Homo sapiens: one gene and its partners. The protein of the gene in region 3 purifies or fractionates together with the protein of the main gene of each other region. This does not show direct contact. Each region holds a gene or a part of one and is shown on either strand. Other genes may lie near its edges.

Evidence for each region.
Region 1: the proteins of EEF2K (region 3) and EPB41 purify together in Homo sapiens (affinity purification with mass spectrometry; 2 studies listed by BioGRID and IntAct, with this or other methods). This does not show direct contact.
Region 2: the proteins of EEF2K (region 3) and EPB41L1 purify together in Homo sapiens (affinity purification with mass spectrometry; 2 studies listed by BioGRID and IntAct, with this or other methods). This does not show direct contact.

The regions. Positions count from the first base shown.
Region 1 is NC_000001.11:29,029,500-29,033,250, forward strand, and holds part of EPB41 (protein 4.1), read left to right. Parts: intron 1-900; coding exon 901-988; intron 989-3,593; coding exon 3,594-3,746; intron 3,747-3,751. UniProt on the Homo sapiens protein: Protein 4.1 is a major structural element of the erythrocyte membrane skeleton. It plays a key role in regulating membrane physical properties of mechanical stability and deformability by stabilizing spectrin-actin interaction. Recruits DLG1 to membranes.
Region 2 is NC_000020.11:36,185,621-36,189,371, reverse strand, and holds part of EPB41L1 (band 4.1-like protein 1), read right to left. Parts: intron 1,697-3,751; coding exon 1,609-1,696; intron 1,026-1,608; coding exon 873-1,025; intron 1-872. UniProt on the Homo sapiens protein: May function to confer stability and plasticity to neuronal membrane via multiple interactions, including the spectrin-actin-based cytoskeleton, integral membrane channels and membrane-associated guanylate kinases.
Region 3 is NC_000016.10:22,203,934-22,207,684, forward strand, and holds the start of EEF2K (eukaryotic elongation factor 2 kinase), read left to right. Parts: upstream 1-2,344; 5' UTR 2,345-2,746; intron 2,747-3,751. UniProt on the Homo sapiens protein: Threonine kinase that regulates protein synthesis by controlling the rate of peptide chain elongation.

The DNA of each region.
Region 1 (3,751 bases), on a different chromosome or scaffold from region 3:
GGGAAACTGGCGTTTACTGTTTTTTCCTTGGGGATGTGCCTGCATTATTGTTACTGTTAAGTTATACTTGATTGGTCTGAATTGTGCAGCATTAGGAGTGATATTTTTGTCTTTGAAAGCTCTATATAACAGCTCATGAACACTTTTCAAAAGACGGGAAATTTATAGAGGAGAAGAAAAGACTGTCACAGCGAGTGTTTAGACAGTGAGACTGACTGTTTTCAAACAAATCTAATTCATTATATGCCTGGTAATGAAGACATATTAATAACAGAGAAAACAGCCCCATTATCTATGTGCTTCCGTGAACCAGTTTATTTTGTTTATATCAGTGGGCAGGACACCATCTGTTACCAGAAATTTTCTTTTCATCAAGCCTGCCCCGATTAAGAGTCCTCAGTTAAGTAACATCAGCTGCCCTCTTGTTTAATTTCCATAACTCAATTCAGGGGTATGGAGAGAAAAAGGCAGCTATAAGAGGATATTGTAAATTACACCATGCCCTCTGAGGATTTAATTTGGTCATCTCCTTGGCAAGAAAAATTAGCGGGAGGAGCTTATGTATGTCGGAGAAAAAGAGTGAAGAGAAGGGGGCAGAACTAATGATAGATGAAATAGCTTTAAGGAAATTGTTTAGTAGGATTAAAAAAATTTTTTTTGCAGCTTTTTGGTGACTTTTTGTTTGCTCACATTGTCTTTTTCTAAGGTATATTTTAATTATTTAGATACAGGCAGTGATGGGTTCTGTTCCATAATAACCTACTTTCAGGACTAGGAAATATATCTTAATATAGTGGTATGTATATGTTCATGTGTTTAAAATACAGTGAATATATAAATGTTACTGTAAATGATGACACTATAACACTGAAAGAATTTTATGTTTTTATTCTATCAAAGGTCCATGACTCCAGCTCAGGCTGACTTGGAGTTTCTTGAGAATGCCAAAAAGTTGTCTATGTATGGAGTTGATCTTCATAAAGCAAAGGTAATGATAACTTTGCCCTTTATTAATATGCATGTGGAAGATATTATATGATACATGTCTGTTATGTATGTATCACATCTGTGTCATATAATACTTTTTAACAACATCTGGGGTATTTTAAAACATTCAAAAGAGATAGTAGACTGGGCACAGCAGCTCATGCCTGTAGTCCCAGCTACTGGGGAGGCTGAGGCGGGAGGATCACTTGAGTCCAGGAGATCGAGCGTACAGTGAGCCCTGATTGTGCCACTGCACTCCAGCCCTGGCGACAGAGCAAGACCCCGTCTCAAAAAAAAAAAAGAGAGAGAAATAGTACTTCTTGTTAGCTTTTTTTTGTTTTGTTTTGTTTTTTTGAGATGGAGCCTTGCTCTGTCTCCCAGGCTGGAGTGCAGTGGCATGATCTCGGCTCACTGCAAGCTCCGCCTCCCAGGTTCACGCCATTCTCCTGCCTCAGCCTCCTGAGTAGCTGGGACTACAGGCGCCAGCTACCACGCCTGGCTAATTTTTGTATTTTTAGTAGAGACGGGGTTTCACCGTGGTCTCGATCTCCTGACCTCGTGATCCGCCCGCCTCGGCCTCCCAAAGTGCTGGGATTACAGGCGTGAGCCACCGTGCCCGGCCTCTTGTTAGCATTTTAAGTGTATCAGTTAAATCAGTCAACTGTATCAATTGAATTTGCCCCATAGCAATTCCACCCTCAGAATAAAGTTTCATATCCAAGCTACTGTTAAGATCAAAAGATAGCCCCTAGAGAAAAAGAAATTGATTTTCCTAACATGCAGTAACATTTGAAAATATAGAGCAGTGGGCAGCAAGTCCTGTTTCACAGCCAGCATCACCTACATCGAATCACTGAGGATGTTCATTAAATATGTAGATCCCTGAGCTTCTCTCAGATGTATGGAATTAATTTGGAGGCGAGGTTCTAGAATGTCTTGGTTTAATGAGCACCCAAATGATTCTAATTCATGCCTGAATCTGAGAACCACTGGCCTAGAGTAGTGGTTCTCAAAGTATGGTGTCTGAGCCAGCAACATTTAACATCACCTAGGAACTTGTTAGAAATGCACATTTCAGGCCCCATCCCAGGCCTGCTGAGTTAGACTCTCTGGAGGTGGAGCTCAGCAATCCATTTTAAGTTCTCCAGGTTGTTCTGATGCACACTGAATGAACCACAGTGGCTCATTCAAAAACCACTTGGGTAGGGCCCTGGAAACTTGAGCTTTAATCCTAGTTCTACCTAATACAGCCTAACAGAATGAATCCTTAAGGAAAGTCTCCTTACTTCTCTCTTCTTCAGCTACTAAAGTTGCTGGGGAGGTCCAGTGCCAGGCGTGGTGGCTCACACCTGTAATCCCAACAATTTGGGAGGCTGAGGCGGCCGATCGCTCAAGCTCAGGAATTCAAGACCAGACTGGGGAACATGGTGAAATCCCGTCTCCATAGAAAATACAAAAAATTAGTCAGGCATGGTGGCACGTGCCTTTGGTGGTCCCAGCTACTCAGGAGGCTGAGGTGGGAGGATTGCTTGAGCCCAGGAGGTAGAGGCTGCAGTGAGCCTAGATTGCACCACTGCACTCCAGCCTGGGTGACAGTTGAGACTCTGTCTTAAAAAAAAAAAAAAAAAAGAAAAAAGTTGTTCTGGATTATTTTGGGCTGGGTACTACAACTTCTATGAATCTCTAAAGTATATTGTAGGAAGATCAGTACATCAGATTAGGTATGTTTCTAAAACTGAAATGGTTAGATTTTGCTTCACAATTCCTGCTGGAAGCTGGTGTCAATTCAGGTATTGATGGAGTCAGGCAGCATGTTCCCTTCCCAAATATTGTAAAGCAAATTGTTTCTCCAAAGTGAAATGTAGTTATACCCACAAGCTTTAAAAATTTAAGAGGGCATCTTCTGGGAAATTCTCAGTTACATAGTCACTGAATTGGAACTGTATGTAATTCCTGCTTCTCTGTTATAACACGTGTAGGCACTAATATATTTCTCTATACTCATTTTGGGGGAAAGAGTAGTCAAGAAGCATTTAACTTTGTGTTTTGATTACTTAGCTAAACAAACTGTTAGCTGTAGGGACTAACTTAGGTGAAATTTATTTTCTTTGAATTATAGACATAGATGATTAATATTACATATTTAATTTTTTAAAGTTGTCTTTAATAAAGAGGCATATAAATATGATTTCATTGTGCCTTAATGTAACTTCTTGACTTAGGGATCATATTTTTAATTTAATATACTTAACATCAATTTTAAGAACCTAAGATTGTCTTATGCTGAGTTTATATAGGAATAGAGTCAACTCCTACATTTAACATCATTTCTGGAGCTGTTAACACTTTATCATAAAAAAACAAGAATTAATAATTGTGCGTGTATATTTGGTAGTATACATAGCTCTAAGCCCTGCTCTCCAGGAAGTCATGACTGCTGATTTAAACATAATAGGTCCATAAATTATAACTGTTAGGCTGAGCTTTATTTTTCATTGTATGTTTTGTAACTGTTTTTGGTTGTTATCTTCAGATTATCTAGTAATAGTCAACAGTGTATTGAGTACTTTGCTCCAGACTGAAATCCTAACATTTTTCTTTTTCAGGACTTGGAAGGAGTAGATATCATCCTAGGTGTCTGCTCTAGTGGCCTTCTGGTTTACAAAGATAAGCTGAGAATTAACCGCTTCCCTTGGCCCAAAGTGCTGAAGATTTCTTATAAACGTAGTAGCTTTTTCATCAAGATTCGGCCTGGAGAGGTACA
Region 2 (3,751 bases), on a different chromosome or scaffold from region 3:
AGAGCTAAAGAGAGTTCCTGAAAGGTGTAAGCAAGGGTGTGGATGGGAAGGGGGAGTGGGCTTGCCATGATCTGATTTAAGGGACTTTTTAAGATCTCTCCAGCAGCTATGAGGAAAATGACCTGGAGAGCACCAGAGGCGAGGGAGAAGGCCCTCATAGGCACAGGCAAAAGATGGGGGATGCTGGAGGCGGGTGTGATGGAGAGGAAGAGAAGCAAATGGGTTCATGTTTATTCTACAGGTACAACCAAATGGGCTTTTTGATGGGTGAGATGTAGGTAATTGAAGGAAAAGAGGTGTAGACATATACATGTTTGCATTTGTGTGTGTTGTATGTATAGTCGAGTCTGTGTATCTTAAAATGTGTACAAACTTCCATACTTACAACACCTAAATACATGAACTTTACACAGACATGTATTCATTTATCTGTGTGACCTGAATGTATGTAGTTATATTTCTTCTTTTTTTTTTCTCCCTTTTTTTTTTTTTTGAGACAGAGTCTTGCTCTGTTGCCCAGGCTGGAGTGCAGTGCCAGCTAATTTTGTATTTTTAGTAGAGACGGGGTTTCACCATGTTGGCCAGGCTGGTCTCACACTCCTGACCTCATGTGATCCACCTTCCTCGGCCTTCTAAAGTGCTGGAATTACAGGCATGAGCCACTGCACCTGGCCATATGTGGTTATACTTTTATTTAGACTCCTCTCTCTCTCTCTCTCTCTCTCTCTCTGTGTGTGTGTGTGTGTGTGTGTGTGTGTGTGTGTGTGTGTGTGTGTGTGTGTGTGTGTGTTGGCAGTCCAGGCCCAGCTGCCAGGGTCCACTCCATTCTAGTTGATTCCGGTGAGGAGGAGTGTTTCCCAAGGCAGACTCACCTCCCCAGGCCGGATCTTGATATAGAAGTTACTCCTCTTGTAGGAGATCTTGAGGATCTTGGGCCAGGCAAAGCGGTTGATTCTCAGCCGGTCCCGGTAGATGAGCAGGCCATTGGCACAAACGCCTAACATGATGTCGATGCCCTCAGAGTCCTGCATGAGAAGAGACCATGGAATGGGAGGCCCGGGGTCCATGCCTGGGGACAGCCTACCACCCACCCCGAAAACACTGCCCTGTGCGCTGCTTGTAACGAGCTCTCAGGAACAGGGTTAGAGCCTCCATGCTGGAGTCCCACTGACCAATCCCTCCCATAGTCATTCAGTCATTCACTCATCCATTTAGGTATTTTTTTCACCCACTCACTTGTTTGATCATTTGCTCTGTCAATCACTCAATCGTTCATTCATCCAGCAAATATTTAGTGGCACACACTTGGTGCCAGGCTATGTGCCAGGTGCTAGGGATATAGAAATAAACTAAGGCCTACGTCTTTCCCTCACAATGCTCCCAATCTAGCAGTGGCTCAAACAGGTTCATAAATAAAATACATGGAGAAAATAATACAGATCATGAGAAAATAAAAGGTTATGGAACTTCGAGAAATGAGAATGAGAACAGAAAAGGTTTCAAGTTGGAGGTAACACAGGGTCTGGCACACCACGCCCTAGGGAAAGGCCTGATAGTTCTTTGGGGGCACCACCCAGACACTAGGGGAACCCAGGAAGCTGGTGGTACCTTGGCATGGTGCAGGTCTACTCCGTACATGGAAAGCTTCTTGGCATTCTCTAAGAAGTGGATTTCTGCTTCTCCCGGGGTCATCCCCCTGAGGGAAAGAAAGTGATCACAGGTGACCAAGGGAAAGGCCCAGGTTTAGTCCTGCTGTCCAAAGGTGCCCACCATCAGAACCCATGATTCTAGAAAGTCAAATATGCTGAGCCTCACCCTAATCTTTTCCCTCTGCCCTCAGAGCAGGAGGGTGTACCCCAACTCCCACTTCAGCCCACCCAACCCCCAACTTCTGCCAAAGCTCAAGTCCAGTCTTGTTAGTCCAGGGATCATACAAAGGCTGAGCTGGGAGTCAGGATTTTTGCCTCATTCTGCCACTGAGTTGACTGTGAGCTATAAATTCTACTTTTCCATGACTGTAAAACCATTGTTACGGACATTGTTCATTATCATCACCCAGGGGCTCCTAAATTATTACCCACACAGGATATTTCTTGCAGAATTTAGTATCAGAAGCCACTTAATCTCTCCTAAGGAACAGGTGCACATTCTCCTTTCCAAAAAGAAGAGTTATGTAATTAATCAAGTTCCTTCTTTGCTTTGGCTGCCAGGAAACTTGGACTACATTTTATACTTAGTCACAGCAAACATTTATTGAGTACTATGTGCTGGTTACTGTTCTAAGCACTTTACACATATTAACTCACTGAATCCTCATAACAACTCTGTAAGATAGGTATTATTATTATTGTCATTTTACAGATGAAAAAACCGGCACAGAGACATTGAGTAACTTGTCCAAGGTCACACTGCTATGAAGAAGAGTCAGAATTTGAATCTAGACAATGTGACTTCAGAGTTTATGCTCCTAATCACTTCATTACAGGTCTTGTGTATCCTCCAGGCCTCAGTTTCCTGTGACCTGTCTACCTCTGGGCTGCTGTGTGGGATACTTGGACACGAGATGTCAGTGTGCTTTAGGTCCAAAGAGCTTTAGGGACAGCCCTTAGTATTTCTCCAGCCCATATTGATCTGAACATCTTTCTCTGAATTATTATGACTCTTGCAAATCCTAAGATGTCTTGCTATCTAGGACAGGGATGACAAATAGATGGCAGGCAGGCCACTACTCCCTATTCCTATGCCCAGGTGGATATTGCTAACCTGGGCATTGTAGGGAATCAGTGTCCTACTCAACACAACACCACAGCAGTCGCTATTAACCAAGTGGAGTTAGTGTGCGACTCTCAGAGACAGCATTTGCCACCCTTGACCTAGCATTCATCACACCCCAGCAGGCTCTTCCCCACGTACACGATCCCTCCACATCTGACTCTAGCCCTCCTCTCCAGATAACGCCCACAGAACCAAGGCCTCCTAATTCCCTCCATCCTCAATAGTAATGAGACAATATCACCATACTCCTTTCCCTGGGTGCCGCACTTTACAGTTTATAATGCACCTTCACATTATTAATTATATTGAGTCCCCATAACAATCCTGGACTTACAGCCCCAAATACTTCCAGCTTAAAAGGACCCTACAAATCATTTAGTTCCAAGGGCTCCTCTCCAGGGGAACCTGTACAGAAGCAATGGCAAAGGGGAGTATCTGGGTTGTTACAAGGACTGAGAAGGTGTTATGGGCATTTACTGGGTCCCAGGGATGCTGAACATTCTGCACAATGAATTCTCCTGCCCCAAATGCCAATAGTTGAGAGACACTGATAATCTAACTTTGTGCATATACAGGTGAAAAATGGGGCTTAGATAGGTTAAATAACCAGCCTACAATCACACTAGTTAATTATCGTCCAACTGCTGGAACGAGGTACTTTCCCCTGCATGATCAACTGTTCAACCCCTCGATCCACAGACAGCAACACTAACAGCCAACATGCAGTGTGCCTTTAATATGTGCTATTTAGGCTTCCCAACAATCCTACAGGGTGGGTTTAACAGCATCCACCTTGAACAGATGAGGAAACCAAAGCATAGGAAGTGAAATGACCTTCCTGAGATCCTCTAGTTAGAAAGTGGCAGAGCCAGTATAGGAACCCTAGCAGGCTGGCTTTCGGGTCCAAACTTTTGAACTCTACACCAAGATCTAGACATGAGGACACTTACTCAGAGACACAGTAGCGATTATTTTC
Region 3 (3,751 bases):
CGGGATCTTGGCTCACTGCAAACTCTGCCTCCCAGGTCCAAGTGTTCTTCCCACCTCAGCCTCCTGAGTAGCTGGGACCATAGATGCAAGCCACCACATCTGGCTAATTTTTGTATTTTTTTATAAAGATGAGGTTTCGCTATGTTGCCCAGGCTGGTCTCAAATTCCTGAGCTCCAGCAATCTGCCTGCCTCCCAAAGTATTGTGATCACAGGCATGAGCCACTGAGCCTGGCCTTTTTCATTTATTTATTTAATTTTTACAGACAGGGTCTCACTCTGTTGCCCAGGCTGAAGTGCACTGCATGATCATAGCTCACTGCAGTTTCAAACTGCTGGGCCCAAGGGATCCTCCTGCCTCAGCCTCCTGAGTATCTGAGACTACAGGCACACACCACCATACCTGGGTTTTTTTTTTTTTTAATGTTTTATTTTAGAGACAGGGGTCTTGCTATGTTGCCCAGGATGGTTTTGAACTCCTGGCCCCATTGATCCTCCTGCCTTGGCCTCCCAAAGCTCTGACATTACATGTGTGAGCCACCTTGCCCGGCCTTGAGTAATTTTATTTTACCGCAGTAGACATCTCCTTGAAGGCAAATGTTTCCCCCAATTCCTAGCACCATATTTGGCACACAATAGGAGCTTAATAAAATTTGCCATAAGAATTAATGCTCAGAAACTCTACTATTACATCCTATCTGCTCAACTCCCTGGAAAAGAGACATTCTCTTTTTATGGTTACTATAAAAGGCCCAGATTAGTATTTCACTGGCCTAACTTGGATCACATGCTCATCCCTGAACCAATCAATGAGGCTGAAGGGATGAAATATGCTAATTGGCCAGGTCTGGTCATGTGTCCATTTTTGGAGCCAGGGGAGTGGGGAGGGCTATTTTCCTGAACTGAAATAGGGTGAACTGGTTCCCTGAAGACTAACCAAGACGCTAATGCAAAGAAGGACACTCCTGCTGGGCAGACAAAAATGACAGAGGCTCAGAGAAGTAAAATAACTTGCCCAAGGGCCATAGAGCTTTAAGCAGTAGCGTCTTTTTTTTTTTTCCAATCTTGCTTTGGGCTTGGACAGACTAGTTCAGCATCTTTGATCTTCCCTTCCTGCCTGACGGCCCCAGGGTCAGAATTCCAGGTGCAATTTTGTCTTGCCAAAAGCTGGAGTTTACTCTCTTTGGGGTTTATAAATAAGGAAAAAAGTTCTTTGGAGAGCCTGAACTTTGAAATCAGAGAAGTCTGGATTTACTGCTGGCTCTGCCTTTTCTAGCTGCCTCACCTGGGGCATGTCATTATCTCTATAAGCCTCAGTTTTGTTCTTTTTTCTTTTTTATTTTTTTGTTTTTGTTTTTTTGCGACGGAGTCTCATTCCTTCACCCAGGCTGGAGTGTAGTGGCGCGATCTCGGCTCACTGCAACCTCTGCCTCCAGGGTTCAAGCGATTCTCGTGCCTCAGCCTCCAGAGTAGCTGGGACTACAGGCGCGCCCGGCTGCTTTTTTGTATTTTTACTAAAGACAGGGTTTTACCGTTTTGGCCAGGCTGGTCTCGAACTCCTGACCTCAGGTGATCTGCCGGCCTCGGCCTCCCAAAGTGCTGGGAAGATGGAATGAGAGAAATCCCTCAAAACATGTCATTGTTACTACTTTTCTATCTAGAATGTGTGAAATTTCTAAAATTTCACTAACAAAGTATCTGGAAGGACCTAATATTAAAGTGTTCACAGTAGCTATTAGTTTTAATTCGTTTTCTTTTTTATACCTTAGCCACTCTACCACTCATGCCACAGGTATTTATTAAGCATCTACTGTGTGCCACCCAGGCCCTGTGTCAAGAGTTAGGAATAACTAAAGGAGATACTAATTTTAAAACTACACAAATAATTGCAATCGTCATACGTGCCTGTTTTTACAAAGCAGAAATCAGGAAAAACAAAGTATTTCCGATAAAAAATATTTTAAGGTTATGGATAGAGATACATACAAACAAGCGATGGGCTTGGATCACTAATGATTTTGGAAAGGACAGGAATACAGGAACTAAGCGAGAAGCAGGCGAGAATGGCGAGGCGCGGCGGGAGAGGACGGAAGTTGGTCACTCCCTCGAATTGCCCCCTCGCTGCCGGATGCTAGGCCAGCCTTGAGCAGGAGAACCGGACACTGTGTACTCAGCAGGGGGAGCCAAGACTTAGCGCTAACCATTGCACCTGGGGCTGGGAGCCAGCGCCGGAGCCAGGAGGCCCGCTAGGCGGCTGCAGGCGCTGTGATGGCCACCTGGGGGCGGCCACGTGAGCGCCACGCCGTGCGCCCGCCAGGCCAGCCCCGCCCCTGCCCGCCCGCTTCTGCTCAACCTAGACCAGCCCCAGCTTCAGCCTCAGCTCCCCTCCTTCCTGGATCGAGCGCCCGCACTCCCGGCCCTGCAGCCACCCGAGTCCCGCTCGCTGTCGCCTGCACGCGAGTCCCCCCTGGCACGCGCTCCCACATCCCGGGATCGTCCCAACGGCCCCTGCGCCCTTCCTGGGATCACTCCGACTGCCCCGCGCGCCCTGGGATCGGTCCATCTACCCCGCGTGGCCCCAGCTGCTTGCCCGGAGCGCCAGCTAGCGCTCCCCGCTCTCCGCTCCCCGGCACTCTCGGGGGGCCCGCCCGCCCTGCACCCTGGAGCTCCGGGCCGCGAGCCTCTGCCAACTCCTCTGGACCCTCGCGGCCGTGGGCAGCGGCTGCCGCGCCTGTCTGCCCGAGGGAGGTAGGTGTGGACCGCGGCCGGCAAGGCTGTGGGGGGCTGGGAGCCCGCGCTGCAGGCCTGTGCGCCCGGGTGCAGCTGGCGTCTGGAGCGTGCTGGGTCTGGGCTTGGGAATGGGGCCGGAGAAGGCATGGAAGGAGAGTGTGGGGGCGCTTCTCCTCTGGTTGTTAAACTCTCTGGGGCTAAGTGCTTGCTTTGGAGAAATGGGGAAGTTGTGCGGATTAAAGGCGATGTGGATATGGAAAGCAATTGGCAAGCAATGGGCGGTGATCTGGCTGCAAGTGACAGAGAGTTTGGGGGCCTCCCCCCTCGGGGCCCCTAGAGTGTGGGCGCATCGCTGCCTTCCTGTCCCCTGCAGGGCTCAGAGCCGCATCCCCCACCTTTCCCCTGAACTAGAGGCCTGCGTCAGCCCGAATTCCCGGAACCTCCAGGACTGTATAGACGCGCCCTTGCTGCATTGTTGGCTGCGGGAGTTTGTTGGCAGGCGCTGCTGACATGTGTGCCAAGGGGCTGGGCATTAATAAGCCGGTGGCCGCGCGGGGGTGGGGGCCTCCCGGGTAAGCCCCGGCCTAGATCCTTTTGCGCGCGCCTGGGGGATTTCGGGGAACCAGCCCAGCTGCGCCCTGAGTGTGACAGATGGGCCGCATGGGGAAGTGAGATCTGCCCAGGGGGACGGTCCCAGGGAGCCCGACCTCTGGGACCTCGGTGGTGGGTGCTTCTTCAGCCAGGAAAGCAGGAAACACTAGGGCTGGAGTCCTGGGTTGGAATTCTAGCTCATTTATGCTCTCTGGCCCTCGGTTTTCTCATCGGTAAAATGGGTACAGTATTAGTATCTACCACTTAGTATCCTTGGAAAGAGTAGATGAGTATGTATATGTCAGGTGCTTGGAACAGTGCCTGGCACACAGTGTCATAGTCTATGGCCCCGGGAGACATCTGATGGCCAAGAGCCCTGTGGTTGAGGGCCCTGGACAGGCTGTGAAGTCACAGCGAATTGAGTCACGTAGT